Homo sapiens: one gene and its partners. The protein of the gene in region 4 interacts with the protein of the main gene of each other region in a pairwise test. Each region holds a gene or a part of one and is shown on either strand. Other genes may lie near its edges.

Region 1 (3,500 bases), on a different chromosome or scaffold from region 4:
CTATTTGTTTTCCATTGCCTTTTTCATTTTTTAGCATTTCTTTTCCTTCACTTTTATGTTAGGAATACTTCTGCAAGCATCTTCGTTTGTGCCGTATCATGAAAGTAGTTTGAGTCTATTCTCCTTATATAATATAACCATAGTGGTTTACTTGATTTTATTGGTTCTTGTAAGGCTATTTGCTGGATTCAGTTCATTTTTTTTTGTTGAGCCCCTGCTTTATATTCTAGTGGTTTTCCTAGGCTTAGTGAATGGTTTTATGAAATTTGAATGGCTTTCATTGCGCATCAAGAAACTTGGAATAACTGGAAATCTGTAGTGATCGAAAAGAAAATAGGTGATTAATTATATAGAAGTTTCTGAGGATCCACTCTTGAGCTGTTAAAATGGGGTTTTAAAGCTATAGAGGGAAAAATATTTTCTGTATAGTCAACATGTAATTATTGAAGAATTGCTGTATGTCCTTTGTTTTCTGTTGAGTTTATTCATTCAACAAATACTGAAGAAGTGTCTCTGTCCTTATGGCTATTAGTCTAACAGTGAGACAAATATGCTTGGAAAATGAATGAAAGGGGAGAGTTTAATAACCAGCAGAGGTCAGCAATATAGGCTCTTACAAGTCAGCATAAGAGTGTATGGTTAAGTGCCGGAACAAGTGCAGTTTGTTCATAAAAGGAAGAAATTAGTAAGTGGTCAGAAAATTTTCATGCTTTATGCTTTTGCATATTAACATGATAATTGATTGAATAAGATAGTTCATTATGGAAATAACATTTAAATTAATTTTTAAAATATGAAGAGAATTAGAATTTCACAGCTGGGGGGGCAAATTCTTAAAATATATTCAGTCAGATCTCATAGATTAAAAAACAAAGCCCACAGAGGCACACTTGCTCATTGTCTTGTGCCCATGTGTAGGTAGTGTAGAATTGGCATTAGAACTTAGGTCTCCTGATTTCTAGTCCATTACTGGTGACACTGTATGTGCTCCCTGGTTGCATTTTGATACCAAAATTCTTGTTTTGTATTTGGAGGTTAGAGTTGAGGGGAGGCAGCAGAGGATAGGATTAAAAAATTTTGGCTCAAGAATTTGAAAAGATCTGGGCTTGATCCTGGCTTTGACACTAACTGGTTGTGAGACCTTGGAAAGTTACTTAACCTCTTTCAGACTCAGTTTACTCATCGCGTGTTCTCACTCATAGGTGGGAATTGAATAATGAGAACACTTGGACACAGGGTGGGGAACATCACACACCGGGGTCTGTCATGGGGTGGGGGGAGGGGAGAAGGATAGGAGATATACCTAATGTAAATGACGAGTTAATGGGTGCAGCACACCAACATGGCACATGTATACATATGTAACCTGTACGTTGTGCACATGTACCCTAGAAGTATTAAAAAAGAAAGACTCAGTTTACTATTTTGTAAAATAGGGTAATAGTACATTCTCTATAGGATTGTAAATAGGATTAGATGAACATACATTTAGCATATAGTAAGAGCTTAATGTATAGTGGTTTTAATTAGGTACTAATATTTAGTATTAATAGTAATTTAAGAAATTCTGTTTAATGGCCAGGCGCAGTGGCTCACGCCTGTAATCCCAGCACTTTGGGAGGCTGAGGCGGGCGAATCACGAGGTCAGGAGTTCGAGACCAGCCTGGCCAACATGGTGAAACCCCGTCTCTACCAAAAACACAAAAAATTAGCTTGGCGTGGTGGCGGGCACCTGTAATCCCAGCTACTTGGGAGGCTGAGGCAGGAGAATTGCTTGAACCTGGGAGGTGGAGGTTGCAGTGAGCTGAGATGGCACCACTGCACTCCAGCCTGGGCGACAGTGCGAGACTCATCTCAAAAAAAAAAAAAAAAAAAAAAAAAAGTTCTGTTTAATAATCTCTATATGCTTAGCTATGAATTTAGTGAAATTTATGTTACTTTTGGATCTTCTGGAGTGCTGGTAGTAGCTGTTTGACTGATCATAGTCAAGGAATCAAAGCTAAAAATAATTAAGTGCTTTGCCTACATCAACCTGCTAGACTAGACCAAGGTTGTCTGAATTCTGGTGCTTTTTCACAACACGTAGTTCCTCCCTAATAAAATATCTCCATGTTAAAATTGAGCATAGTGTCCATTTTGTTTTGGCCTCAAAAATTAATTTTAGTCTATTGAAATTTTTTTTAGAAATGGCCTAAAATTCAGCATTCTCACTTATGTTATCTTTTAAGTTACAGTAATCTGGTGGCATTGTAAGAGTTGAAATTTAAAATTGAAAATGACCCATAATTCAAGTGTGTTATTCATTTGTCTTAGTCTGTTTGGGCTGCTGTAACAAAGTATAGTACCTCACAGTGGGTAATTTATAAACAACAGAAATTTATTGCCCAGAACTCTGGAGGCTAGGAAGTCCAAGATCAAGGTCCCAGCAGATTCAGTGTATGGTGAGTCCTTTTCCTCATTGATGGCATCTTCTTTGTGTCCTCACATGGCAGAAGGGGATGGCAGCTCTTTGGGGCCCTTTTCTTTTCTTTTCTTTTTTTTTTTTGAGACGGAGTCTTGCTCTGTCGCCCAGGCTGGAGTGCAGGGGTGCCATCTCGGCTCACTGCAACCTCCATCTCCTGGGTTCAAGCGATTCCCCTACCTCAGCCTCCCGAGTAGCTGGGATTATAGGTGCATGCCACCATGCCCAGCTAATTTTTGTATTTTTAGTAGAGACGGAGTTTCACTATGTTGGCCAGGCTGGCCTTGAACTCTTGGCCTCAAGTGATCCACCTGCCTCAGCCTTCCAGAGTGCTGGGATTACAGGTGTATGCCACCACACTTGGCCTCTGGGTCCTTTTTTTAATAGGGATATTAATCCCATTCTTGAGAGCAGAGCCCTGCTGACCTAGTCACCTCACAAAGTCTTCACCTTCTGATACCATCACGTTGGTGATAGGTTTCAGCATGTGATTTTTAAGGAAACAAACGTTCAGACCTTAGTTTTCATTTTGTAACATCAAGAATGTTATCCATCTTATTTCATTTACCTTGACAATGATACTTACAAGTTGATTTCACTCCTCCCTTATCTGTTTAAAATTTTGAGGCTGAGCTTGATAGCTCATGCTTGTAATCCCAGTGCTTTGGGAAGCCAAGGCAGGAGGATTGCTTGAACCCAAGAGTTTGAGACCAGCCTGGGCAACATAGTGAGACTTCCATCTCTACTAAAATTTAAAAGTTAGCTGGGTGTGGTGGTGCACACCTGTAATCTAAGCTACTTGGGAGGCTGAGGCGGGAGGGTGACAGAGTGAGACCCTGTCTCAAAAAAAAAAAAAAAAACCCAAAAAACAAACAAAAAAAAGATATAAAATTTTGAGTTTGGAGATTGGATAGCACTAGGAAAGTATTCTGAGGATTTCCTTTGTGATTGTCACATTTTGAAAACTGTCTTTTAACATTAATCTGGAACATAGTGGTTGCAGTTTGTGGGCCTGTGTTATTTTACGTTCATGTCAACT
Region 2 (4,082 bases), on a different chromosome or scaffold from region 4:
TGATTTTTTTACATGGGATTCTGTCAACTGGTTTTACGTGAAAAGCAGTGAAATGAGAGGGAAATGCCCAGTATGTGCCAGGCTCTGGGCAGGGTCATTTACATACAATTACCTTATACACCTGTGATTAATGCCAAACACGTGGCAGAGCTGGTCTTGATAATTCCTCACTAGAACTGAGGATCAACTTGGATCACCGCTCAAGCAATGTCTGTTTTCGTTTCTTCTGCCAATAATTTCTCTCTATAGATCACTGAAAAAAGGGATTTGACCTTGGCTTTATTTTTTCTAAAGCCATTCTACAATTAGGACAACCATGACAATATCTAGCATTTGTTTAGTGCATTCTCTGTCCCTAGTACTGTGCTAGCTGTTTTTCTATTGTTCTGAGGAAACTATTCAAACAGTCCTAGACACATAGCCCAATTTCTGGTTGAGGTCACACAATTTGGAAAATCGCCAATTTTGTTATATCCCTAAGCAAATCAATTTTGTAAACAAAAAGATCTCCATGTAGCTCCTCCAATCAAACATAGCAAAACCGGCTCTTCGATCAATAATTCCTATTGAAAAAAGCAATCAAATTTCACAAAAAGCAATTAAACTTAAGGTTGAAAAGAAAATTCCTAAGTATTTTTATATCAAATATTTTATAAATGAAGGCAGAGTTTGCTGTTTATAATGGTGACTATGGCCCAACGTCATAGGTTTTTAAATTTATTTTATTTTTTTATTTTTTGAGACAGAGTCTGACTCTGTCACCCTAGCTGGAGTGCAGAGACGCAATCTTGGCTCGCTGCAACCTTGAATGTCTGGGCTCAAGCAATACTCCCACTTCTTGGGAAGCTGAGATGACAGGCATGCACCATCATGCTGGCTAATTTTTTGTATTTCTGTAGAGACATGGTCTCTCTATGTTCCCCAGGCTAGTCTCGAACTTCTGGCCTCAAGCGATCCTCCCACTTCCGCCTCCCAAAGTGCTGGGATTACAGGCGTGAGCCACTGCGCCCGGCCTATGGTTTTTATTCTTGACTTTGCCAGATTCCTTTGTCATTACTTGAATAAGCCAATTAAGCTATCGTGCTTATTATGCAAAAATTATTTTTGCGTTTCTAATCAAATGAACGCCAACACAATAAGACGTTACCTGGGGAGTGCTCAACGGAAGGATAAAACACTCTGAAAAAAATGTTATTGTAATTTTTTCTATATTTGGCTGGTTTATGCTGCTGTCACTGAGCTAGGTTTTCATCTAGACATGCTAATTCAGTGTAGGTCTGATTGAAGCTTTTTTGTTTCTAATTACTAAAATAATAAGGTGTCCAACTCTTTTTTCTTATTAGGAAAGTTAATATTAACAGTGATACCATGGAAAATTTAACACTGACAGGAGCATATGTGTTTTAAAACACAAGAAATGGGATGAATCTCAGATTGCCTGGAAATAGTCATTTAAATGAAAAAGTTTTTAAATTTAAGAGATAATAGAAAAGTTAAAAGGACACACCAGATGGCATTTTCACTCACCAGGATTAGAAATAATCATCCAAACAAATAAAAAGTGTATCAAAGTTATTTTTCACATTTATTTATATCAGAGAGATAAAGCAGTCATTTTACCTTGCACATAAGGACCACTTATGAAATCATTTATATAATTTGAGAAGGCATTTACTATGTCTATAAAAATTCATAAATTAAACTGTCACATTAATTCAATCATTTATAGCAAACTCTCCTTCCATTAATATATTTTACTTTAAAAAATATTTACTTTTTGGTTTGGACTAAAATCTCATTCAATTCAGTGATAGTACTTAACATTTTCCCACTGCAATTATGTGAGATTTTCTGCTTCAAAGACATTTTTTAAGTTACTTCCTTCAAATTAATGTGTAACTATCCTTCTCTTTGCAAACTATACAATCAGGAACCACTTTATGTATTTTATTAAATAAGCTAAAAATTGCAAATATTTAATTTTCATTTATAGTGGATTCAGTGAAAAACATAAAAATTATTTCAGTTCAAGGCATATTTGTCATTACTAATGAGTTAACATAAAATATTATCTCCCTAAATATTTTCTAATTCAATGCCAAACATACCATATGCAATATCATCATCTCCAGAAAGTGCTAATCCAGCTATATAAACAGCATATTTGTCTTGATCTTTTCCTAATACAACCCAATACTATTCATGCATCTGTTTTTCCTCCAGGCATAGACTACTGGAGCTAGAAGGGGCTCCAGAAGGATCTAATCTGACCCATCCTCTCCTCATTAAAGTGTGGTTTTAAAAACGTGATACCAAGTCTCTCACACATTGGCAATACGAAGCTACTCAGAAAGGAACTAAAGTTCGCATTCAAACTTTACCTTTGTAAAATTCCCAAAGAATCTCCCACGGCGTTCTTCACTCCTTCCTTCCCAGGTTTCAGAATTTTTTCTTTGAAGGTATCAAATGCTTTAAAAGGCATTTTGAATGAGGGGCACCTCTGAGCCGTTAACAGTCAGTCTCAAAAACTGTCATCCTTCCTCATTTCCAGTGTGAGAACCACCTTGTTTCCCTTGGTGAACACCTGGAAGTCAGTTCTCGTGGAGGGAACTACTCAAAATCAAAAAGGAGATGAAACCCAGCTCGGATCTTCCAAGATAAGACAACTCCCTCCTCTCTCTGCTCCCCACCCCTCCAAAAAAGAGTCCAAGGGGTGTCTGGCTGGGAATTCAGTCCCTTGCAAAAGCTGCACGCTCTGCAGCAGCCTGTGGCAGCTGTCTCAGGCAGCCACTCTCAGACTGAGCGCAGCCTCTCTCCCTCCCTGGGCTGCAGCTGGGGACGCTAACATGAGCTCCGGACCACCAGGAGTCCTGAGACCAGCAGCAGTATCCGTGGCCTAGCTCCAGCCCCTCCAGCCAGCCGCGTCCCCCTCCTGCCCCACCCCAGCTCGCCTGCCGCTCTCACCAAGTGAGACTTTCCAAGGTGATGCTATAGTAACCGGCACAATACCTGCCCCTCAGCCGCCTGGGCTTATGAATGGGCTCTCAGCCAGAGCAGGCACCCAGAGAGAAATTTATGAAACATTTACAGCCCTTTGCTTTTCTGAGGTCTGGCCCTGCAGACAGGCTCACAGCCACCACTCCATGCCTTTTATTCCCCTCATGAGAGTCATGAAGCCGTTTTTCAGCCAGCCACTAGCATGGATGTGGTCCCACGAGGAACTTGCATTTGAGTAGCCCAAATGCAAAACCCAGGCCACATACATCCAGGAGGACATTTATTTGCTCCTAATCAACAGAGCAGGCTCTCTCAAAGTATGATACGTAGATGCCATTTGGGACCATCTAATTGAAGATTTCTGAGCCGGAAGATATCTAGAACCTGCTTAGAACTCTCCACTGACTCCTCATTGTCCTCAGGATAAATAAAATTATTTTTGTTTTTTCCCCTTTTCTCCCTCTAGATGGACTTTTTTTTTTTTACTTTAAGTTCCAGGATACATGTGCAGAACATGCAGGTTTGTTACATAGGTATACATGTGCCATGGTGGTTTGCTGCACCTATCAACCCATCATCTAGGTTTTAAGCCCCACATGCATTAGGTATTTGTCCTAATGCTCTCCCTCTCCTTGCCCCCCAACCCCTGACCAGCTCCGGTGTGTGATGTTCCCCTCTCTGTATCCATGTATTCTAATCATTCTACTACAAAGACACATCCACACGTATGTTTATTGCAGCACTATTTACAATACAATTCTTTATCATGGCACACAAGGCCTTTCCCTGGGACCCTAAGTCTTTCTTCTTGTCACTCTGCTTTCCACATCCTCATTTCACTGAACTCAGCAAGCTCCCTATTGCCTCTGGGCTTTACTCAAGCTATGCCCTCTGCCTGGGTAACTCTCTGCACCCCTTCAACTGGGTAACTTCTAGGGGTTCTAAGGTCATGCTAAGATATCAATCCTCTAGAAAACTGCATGGGCAAGGTGAGATGTCCCTCCTCTGTGCCTCCAAATCACCTGTCCTCTGCCCTAGCAGAGCCTGGCAGGGAGTGGGCGTTACCTAAATACTTGTTGAACTGG
Region 3 (3,500 bases), on a different chromosome or scaffold from region 4:
AGTGAAATCCCGTTTCTACTAAAAATAAAACAAAAAAATTAGCCAGGCATGGTGGCAGGCGCCTGTAGTGCCAGCAACTCGGGGGCTGAGGCAGGAGAATGACGTGAACCCAGGAGGTGGAGCTTGCAGTGAGCTGAGATCGCGCCACTGCACTCCAGCCTGGGCAACAGAGCAAGATTCTGTCGCCTCCTGCCTCAGCGTCCCAAGTAGCTGGGACTATAGGCACCCGCCAACATGCCCGGCTAATTTTTTGTATTTTTAGTAGAGATGGGGTTTCACCGTGTTAGCCAGGATGGTCTCGATCTCCTGACCTCGTGATCCGCCTGTCTCGGTCTCCCAAAGTGCTGGGATTACAGGCGTGAACCACCACGCCCGGCCAAAAAAAAGCAAATCTTAAAGTGAGCTGTGATAAGTCTGAAATAATTTTCATTTAAACCTATGTCAATATTAATACGTTTTATAGTAATTTTATGAACTTTAAACATTTTTATATCGAGAAGTACCATTACTCAGAGAAAGACTAATAAAATATTTGTGGTAATGATAGTGGTTATATCTTAAAAGACTTATGTTTTGTGTTTCTGTTTTGTGATTTTCAGAGGCCTAGATTTGAGCTACAGTGAATGTATTAATGTAGATATGTAAAATAGCATGGAAAATGAAAGCAGAATTCTGCATCTTTTATTTATTTTTCTCTCCTTTGAATTCCTGGTTATTTCTTTGCAGTCACCCCAAACCAGAAGGCCTGGCTGCTGCCAAGAAGCTTTGTGAGAATCTTTTGCAAACAGTGAGTTGTATTTGTCTGATACTCATTCAGAAGAGCAATTGCCATTTTGGAGTATGTCTTAGCTGTTTCTTTCACCTGTTTAGTTTCCTAGTACTGCTATAACAAGTTATGGCAGTTGGGTGGCTTAAAATAACACAAATTTATTCTATCACAGTCCAGGAAGCAGAGTCTGAAATCAAGGTGCTGGCAGAATTGGTTCCTTCTGGAGTCTTTGAGAGAGAAATCATCCCATGCCTTTCCTCTCTCCTAGCACCTGGTCATTGTGTTGGTTTTCTTTGGCTTGTATTAGCATAACTCCAGTCTGAAGTAAGGGTAGAACTATAATAATTTAAAACCAGTTAGACATGTTTGGGGGATGATTGCTCATTTGATTATGCATTCTTTTTATTCTATAAACAACCAAAAGTTAAACCTTAGGACTGTCTTTTTTTTTTTTTTCTGTCGCCCAGGCTGGAGTGCAGTGGCGGGATCTCGGCTCACTGCAAGCTCCGCCTCCCGGGTTCACGCCATTCTCCTGCCTCAGCCTCCCAAGTAGCTGGGACTACAGGCGCCCGCCACTACGCCCGGCTACTTTTTTGTATTTTTAGTAGAGACGGGGTTTCACCGTTTTAGCCGGGATGGTCTCGATCTCCTGACCTCGTGATCCGCCTGCCTCGGCCTCCCAAAGTGCTGGGATTACAGGCGTGAGCCACCGCGCCCGGCCAGGACTGTCTTTATAGCACTTAGAGGAAATCAGGTTTTGCACTGAATATGTTCAACCTTGTGTTCTCTGGTGCCTTATTGGGTAGCTCATGGTTGGTTTTTTTGTTTGTTTTTTTACTTTTGTACATAGCACCTGATTTACCAACCCTTGTACCGGATAATTTTCTTGACTATTTCCCATCTTTGTTGGTACTTGAGGTTATGGACTTAATAATATATAGGAAGGAAGTATGAGGAAAATACGAAACCCTTACTAAATGTGAGCTCCTTGAGGAAAAGTCACCCAGTAAATGTGAATGAATTGAGGTCTCACCAGTTATACTAACAACTTGGAAATTTCCTAGTTACTTAATTTCTGTGGCTTTCTAAATGATTCTGTACCCCAGAATTGAGTATGGTTTAGGGGATTCAGGATTATTCTCCTAATTCCCAAAATTGGCTTAATAATTTATAGATTTGCCTTATTAAAATGTTGAGGTGGGTTGGACACGGTGGCTCATGCCTGTAATCCCAGCCCTTTGGGAGGCCAAGGCGGGCAGATAATGAGGTCAGGAGTTCGAGACCAGCCTGGCCAACATCGTGAAACCCCCGTCTCTACTAAAAATACAAAAACTAGCTGGGTGCGGTGGCACGCGCCTGTAGTCCCAGCTACTTGGGAGGCTGAAGCAGGAGAATCGCTTAAACCGTGAAGGTGGAGGTTGCAGTGAGCTGAGACCATGCCATTGCATTGTACCCTGGGTGACAGAGTGAGACTGTCTCAAAAAAAAAAAAAAAAAAAAGATTTGCAGTGATACAAGATCGCGCCACTGCACTCCAGCCTGGGTGACAGAGCAAGACTGTCTCAAAAAAAAAAAAAAATGTGGGTTAAACAAGTTTAAATTTGATTGGAACATTGGTAGATATATTTTAATTCCTAATGGCTTTGGTCCTAGAATTATGTAATCAGACCCTTGTAAATGCACAGCTTCGGCTGTCCCATGTTAATTTGTTTCCCCCTCTCTTTCAGGTTCATGCTGAATACTCTAGATTTGTGAATCAGATTAATACTGCTGTACCTTTACCAGGTGTGTACATCTTGAAGTGTTTAAAAAATATTTTGCTAGTGATAGTTATGTGTAACTATGATACTTGAGGCTAGACTGTGCCAGGGCACTATTAATGTTCCCTTTAATTTAGGGTAATTTGGAAAGCCATTCATGCCTCAGTATTTTTCTTCCCTAGATATTAAGTTTAATATTCAGCTAAATTGTCTCATTCTGCTGCAGCTGATTAAACACTTTTTTTCTTCCCCCTCAGGCTATACACAACCCTCTGCTATAAGTAGTGTCCCTCCTCAACCACCATATTATCCATCCAATGGCTATCAGTCTGGTTACCCTGTTGTTCCCCCTCCTCAGCAGCCAGTTCAACCTCCCTACGGAGTACCAAGCATAGTGCCACCAGCTGTTTCATTAGCACCTGGAGTCTTGCCGGCATTACCTACTGGAGTCCCACCTGTGCCAACACAATACCCGATAACACAAGTGCAGCCTCCAGCTAGCACTGGACAGGTAGGATGTCAGGATATGCAACAACATATTACTGAATTTAGGAAAAACTGGGGAAAGAGGGGAAGTAGTGGTATTCCAGAAATAAATCATGTGATGTGGAATGTCTTTTTCCTGCTGTCTTCTGTGTTCCTACCACCAACCTACCTGAATATTTTGGATTAGTGTGTATGTGTGTATGTCATCCTGAAGTTTATATTTTCACAAGTCTTGCACACCAAATAGCTGTTTAAAGTGGGGATGGTGGGCACACTTGCTATAAAGGGTCAGATGGCAAATATTTTAGGCTTTAAGGGCCATACATTCTCTGTCACAACTATCACACTCGGTGGTTGTAGTGCAGAAGCAGCCCGTGGATAATACCTCAATGAATAAGCATAGCTGTTGTACTCCAGTAGAACTTTATTTACAAAACAGGTGGCAGGCCACAGTCATAGTTTGCCATACCCTTGGCCATTGTTTGC
Region 4 (4,927 bases):
TTTTTCATGGGTTTATAATTGTATTGTCCCTTTAAATATTCTACATTGAACATGTATCACCAGCAGAAATAATCATTTACGAGGTGAAGTGTCCAGAGCCATGTAGTGTCTGCATTGCTGTGTCCAGGGATTCTTTGTTTGTTTGAGACGGAGTCTCGCTCTGTCATCCAGGCTGGAGTGCAGTGGCACGATCGTGTCTCACTGCCGCTTCCACCTCCCGGGTTCAAGTGATTCTTCTGCCTCAGCCTCTTGAGTAACTGGAATTACAGGCGTGTGCCACCACGCCCAGCTAATTTTTGTATTTTTAGTAGAGATGGGGTTTCACCATGTTGTCCAGGCTGGTCTCAAACTCCTGAACTCAAGTAATCAACCCACCTTGGCCTCCCAAGGTGCTGGGTTTACAGGCATGAGCCACTGTGCTCAATCTGCGTTCTGAGGCATTCTGTGCCTGTTATGAAATCATGATGCTGGCAGGTCGGAAGATGGAATCGACTTCCCAGCCCCATCGGCTGTGCCCTGCCCTCCTTGCTGTCTCTAGAGCGCGGCTGACTTCGGGGAGAGCTCTCCCTGCCCTGTGCCTCTATTTTTTCACCAGGTAGGGTGGAAATGTGTTCTAGTGAAACTGCAGAACGAAAATATCCCGTCTTACTCTTGACCCTTGAAGAAGCAGGAGCTGAATTCAGGTGCCAGAGGCTGCGTCCGCGCGCTCCACATCAGTCTCAGAGTGGAGGCGAGCCCAGGCCAGAGGCCTCTACCCCGGACGAGGCTGCAGGTGCCTGACGGGAGGAGTGACTGCAGCTCAGCAGAGGGAGTGTGTGGAGTGTGCGGCCCTGCCTGGCTTTTATTTTGCTCCTCCTGTTATTGGGAGGGATTAGCAGCAGAGCGAATGTTTGGATCTTTGCTGAGCAGTCCCATCGGATTTTTCTTTATTAAATAGGATTGTGTTTTATTGTAAGAAGGTTTCCCTAAGACAAATAACGAAGGAAATTCTGGGTCCAGGAGTACAGACTGTAGCTTCTGTCATCTCTTGCCAAGTTCGTAGCCCTCAGATGGTGTCTGTCTTTCCCCTTTGCTTGCGGGGCCTTTTACCACAGCACTTTGGTGTTCTTTTAGCTGCTGCGATAGGACTAGCTGTTAAAATCTGAGATTTTACATTTTTGCCAGTCGCAATAAATTTTGTTAGTTCTTTCTTGATGTGTTCTTTAAAATAATAATGCTTTTTTTTTTTGGGTGGGGGACAGAGTCTTGTGCTGTCGCCCAGGCTGGAGTGCAGTGACGCGATCTCGGCTCACTGCAAGCTCCGCCTCCCGGGTTCACGCCATTCCCCTGCCTCAGCCTCCCGAGTAGCTGGGACTACAGGCGCCCGCCACCACGCCCGGCTAATTTTTCGTATTTTTAGTAGAGATGGGGTTTCACCGTGTTAGCCAGGATGGTCTCGATCTCCTGACCTTGTGATCCGCCCAGCTCGGCCTCCGAAAGTGCTGGGATTACAGGCGTGAGCCACTGCTCCTGGCCTCATCTTTTTTTTTTTTTTTTTTTTTTTTGAGACGGAGTTTCACTCTTGTTTCCCAGGCTGGTGGAGTGCAACGGTGTGATCTTGGCTCACCGCAACCTCTGCCTTCTGGGTTCAAGTGATTCTCCAGCCTCAGCCTCCTGAGTAGCTGGGATTACAGGCGTGTGCCACCACACCCAGCTAATTTTGTATTTTTAGTAGAGATGGGGTTTCTCCATGTTGGTCAGGCTGGTCTCGACCTCCCAACCTCAGGTGATCCACTCACCTCGGCCTCCCAAAGTGCTGGGATTACAGGCGTGAGCCAACGCACCTGGCCTCATCTTGTTTTTTTTTTTTTTTTTTGAGACAGAGTCTTGCTCTGTCGCCCAGGCTGGAGTGCAGTGACTCAGTCTCGGCTCACTGCAAGCTCTGCCACCTGGGTTCATGCCATTCTCCTGCCTCAGCCTCCCGAGTAGCTGGGACTACAGGCACCCGCCGCCACGCCCAGCTAATGTTTTTTGTATTTTTAGTAGAGACGGGATTTCATCGTGTTAGCCAGGATGGTCTCGATCTCCTGACCTCGTGATCTGCCCACCTCGGCCTCCCAAAGTGCTGGGATTAGAGGCGTGAGCCACCGCGCCCTGCCACATCCTGTTTTTTTTACAACAGGGTGTCACTCTGTCTCTCACCCAAGTTAGAGAGGAGTGACACAGTCTTAGCTCACTGCATTCTCCCAGGCCCAAGCAATCCTCCTATCTCAGCCTCCCAAGTAGCTGGGACTTTAGGTATGTGTCACCACAGTTGACTAATGTTTTAATTTTTGTAGAGATGGGGCCTCCACATGTTGCCCAGGTTGGCCTTCCTGGGCTCGATCCTCCTGCCTCAGCCTCCCAAGGTGGTGCATGCCTACAGTCTCAGTAGATTAGAATCACCCTAACCCTCAGTAACTGAGATTGTAGGCACGCACCACCTCACTGACTCACCTCAAACTCTCTTTTTTGAGATGGAGTCTCTGTCACCAGACTGGAGAGCAGTGGTGCGATCTTGGCACACTGCAACCTCCGCCTCCTGGGTTCAAGCGATTCTCCTGCCTCAGCCTCTGTAGCAGCTGGGACTACAGGCATGCGCCACTACGCCCGGCTGATTTTTGTATTTTTTAGTAGAGACGGGGTTTCACCATGTTGGCCAGGATGATCTCGATCTCTTGACCTCATGGTCTGCGCACCTTGGCCTCCCAAAGTGCTGGGATTACAGGTGTGAGCCACTGCGCTCGGCCCATCTCAAACTTTTAATAAGGCTCTTCGTATAGAAATTTTTAAAAAATTAAAAACATTTTTGGCCAGGCTTAGTGGTTTAAGCCTGTAATCCCAGTGCTTTGGGAGGCCAAGGCAAGCAGATTACATGAGGCCAGGAGTTTGAGACTAGCCTGGCCAACATGGCGAAACCACGTCTCTACTAAAAATACAAAAATTTGGGCAGGTGCAGTGGCTGACACCTGTAACCCCAACACTTTGGGAGGCTGAGGTGGATAGATCTCTCGAGTTCAGGAATTTGAGACCAGCCTGGGTAACATGAGGAAACCCCATCTCTGCAGAAAATACAAAAGTTAGCTGGGCGTGGTGGTGCATGCCTGTGGTCCCAGCTACTCGAGAGGCTGAGGTCAGGCTGAGGTGGGAGGATCCCTGGAGCCTGGGAAGCGGAGGTTGCAGTGGGGGATGAAAAAGAATACCCCGTGTCCAAATAGCAAAACACTCTGAAATGAGGCAAACCGTGGTTTGTTGAACAGGTGTTCTGGGACAAGGTTGCCGAATATGCATTAGCCGTAATCCCCAGGACAGCCATGCAGGGTGGGTCTTAAACAGTTTTTTAGATTCTCGAGTATAAAGGTATAATATTGAAGAATAAGCACAAATAATGTCATCATACATGTTAAAGTGACAACACAGGATTTACAAAATTACCCTTTTTTCCCCAAAATTACCTCTTACGATGTGGTTTCTGTTGGTGCTGTTTTCTCTTGCATCATCCCGCCAGGTTGGGTAACCCTAACTGATTGTCACCAGCAGACCAACAGACAGACTCACAGCATCCTTCTCCCTGGTGTGAGCACTGCTTAATTCACATTTATGAAAATACTTTAAGACAAGGGCACTGTAACTCACATAGAATCTGAAGTGGCCTTGAACAGGGAGCTGGTCCAGCTGCCTCTTAGTGTGTCTGACCTCCAGGTGGGCGGACTGAGATGCGTGCAGGTGTTCATGGTATAGGCATCCTTGTAAACCTGCTCTGGTTAAGGATAAATAGGCAAAGTTGTGCTAATGCTGTTCCTACAGCAGCCTTTGCCCTGGACTGACTCCAGAACAGCTGGCTGACTGACAGCTGCCTCCCAGTAAAGCCTTAAACAGGCTTATCTTATATTTTTAAAAGGCAAAGGACAATAAGGCAGATTAATAAACTGTGGGGGTTTTTTTGTTTGTTTTTGTTTTTCTTGAGACAAAGTCTCGCTGTTGTACCCCAGGCTGGAGTGCAACGGCGCGATCTCGGCTCACTGCAACCTCTGCCTCTCGGGTTCAAGCGATTCTCCTGCCTCAGCCTCCAGAGTAGCTGGGATTACAGGTGCCCGCCACCACGCCCGGCTAATTTTTGTATTTTTAGTCTAGACGGGGGTTTCACCATGTTGGCCAGGCTGGTCTCGAACTCCTGACATCAGGTGATCCGCCTGCCTCGGCCTCCCAAAGTGTCAGGATTATAGGGTGAGCCACCGTGCCTGGCTTTTTTTTTTTTTTCCTGTCTTTTGTGTATGTGATGGGGTCTCGCTCTTGTCGCCCAGGCTGGAGTGCCATGGCACGATCTCGGCTCACTGCAACCTCTGCTTCCCGGGTTCAAGTGACTCTCCTGCCTCAGCCTCCTGAGTAGCTGGAACTGCAGGTGTGCACCACCATGCCCGGCTAATTTTTGTATTTTTACTAGAGATGGGGTTTCACCATGTTGGCCAGGCCGATCTCGACCTCCTGACCTCAAGTGATTGACCCACCTCAGCCTTCCAAAGTACTGGGATTGCAGGTGTGAGCCACCACACCCGGGGCTGGATTTTTTTGTTTTAAGAGACAAGGTCTCACACTCTTGCCCAGGCTGGTTTACAGTGGTGCAGTCACTGCAGCCTTCACCTCTGGGCTCGAGTGATCCTCCCACCTCAGGTTACAGGTGTGAGCCACCACACATGACCGCACATGGCAGATTTTTTTTTTTTTTTTTTCACGGAGTCTGGCTCTTGTCACCCAGGCTGGAGTGCAATGATGTGATCTCAGCTCTCACTGCAACCTCCGCCTCCTGGGTTCAAGCAATTCTCCTGCCTCAGCCTCCCGAGTAGCTGGGATTATAGGGGCGTGCCACCCTGCCCAGCTAATTTTTTTTTTTTTCTGGAGACAAAGTCTT

Evidence for each region. The genes of interacting proteins can lie anywhere in the genome.
Region 1: the proteins of DNAJC5 (region 4) and SCAMP1 come close enough for resonance energy transfer, tested with the Homo sapiens proteins (one study listed by BioGRID).
Region 2: the proteins of DNAJC5 (region 4) and SLC17A8 come close enough for resonance energy transfer, tested with the Homo sapiens proteins (one large-scale study listed by BioGRID).
Region 3: the proteins of DNAJC5 (region 4) and KHDC4 come close enough for resonance energy transfer, tested with the Homo sapiens proteins (one large-scale study listed by BioGRID).

The regions. Positions count from the first base shown.
Region 1 is NC_000005.10:78,363,617-78,367,116, forward strand, and holds part of SCAMP1 (secretory carrier-associated membrane protein 1), read left to right. Parts: intron 1-3,500. UniProt on the Homo sapiens protein: Functions in post-Golgi recycling pathways. Acts as a recycling carrier to the cell surface.
Region 2 is NC_000012.12:100,355,792-100,359,873, reverse strand, and holds the start of SLC17A8 (vesicular glutamate transporter 3), read right to left. Parts: upstream 2,801-4,082; 5' UTR 2,483-2,800; coding exon 2,382-2,482; intron 1-2,381. UniProt on the Homo sapiens protein: Multifunctional transporter that transports L-glutamate as well as multiple ions such as chloride, sodium and phosphate.
Region 3 is NC_000001.11:155,920,914-155,924,413, reverse strand, and holds part of KHDC4 (KH homology domain-containing protein 4), read left to right. Parts: intron 1-726; coding exon 727-787; intron 788-2,495; coding exon 2,496-2,553; intron 2,554-2,785; coding exon 2,786-3,039; intron 3,040-3,500.
Region 4 is NC_000020.11:63,900,839-63,905,765, forward strand, and holds part of DNAJC5 (dnaJ homolog subfamily C member 5), read left to right. Parts: intron 1-4,927. UniProt on the Homo sapiens protein: Acts as a general chaperone in regulated exocytosis. Acts as a co-chaperone for the SNARE protein SNAP-25. Involved in the calcium-mediated control of a late stage of exocytosis. May have an important role in presynaptic function.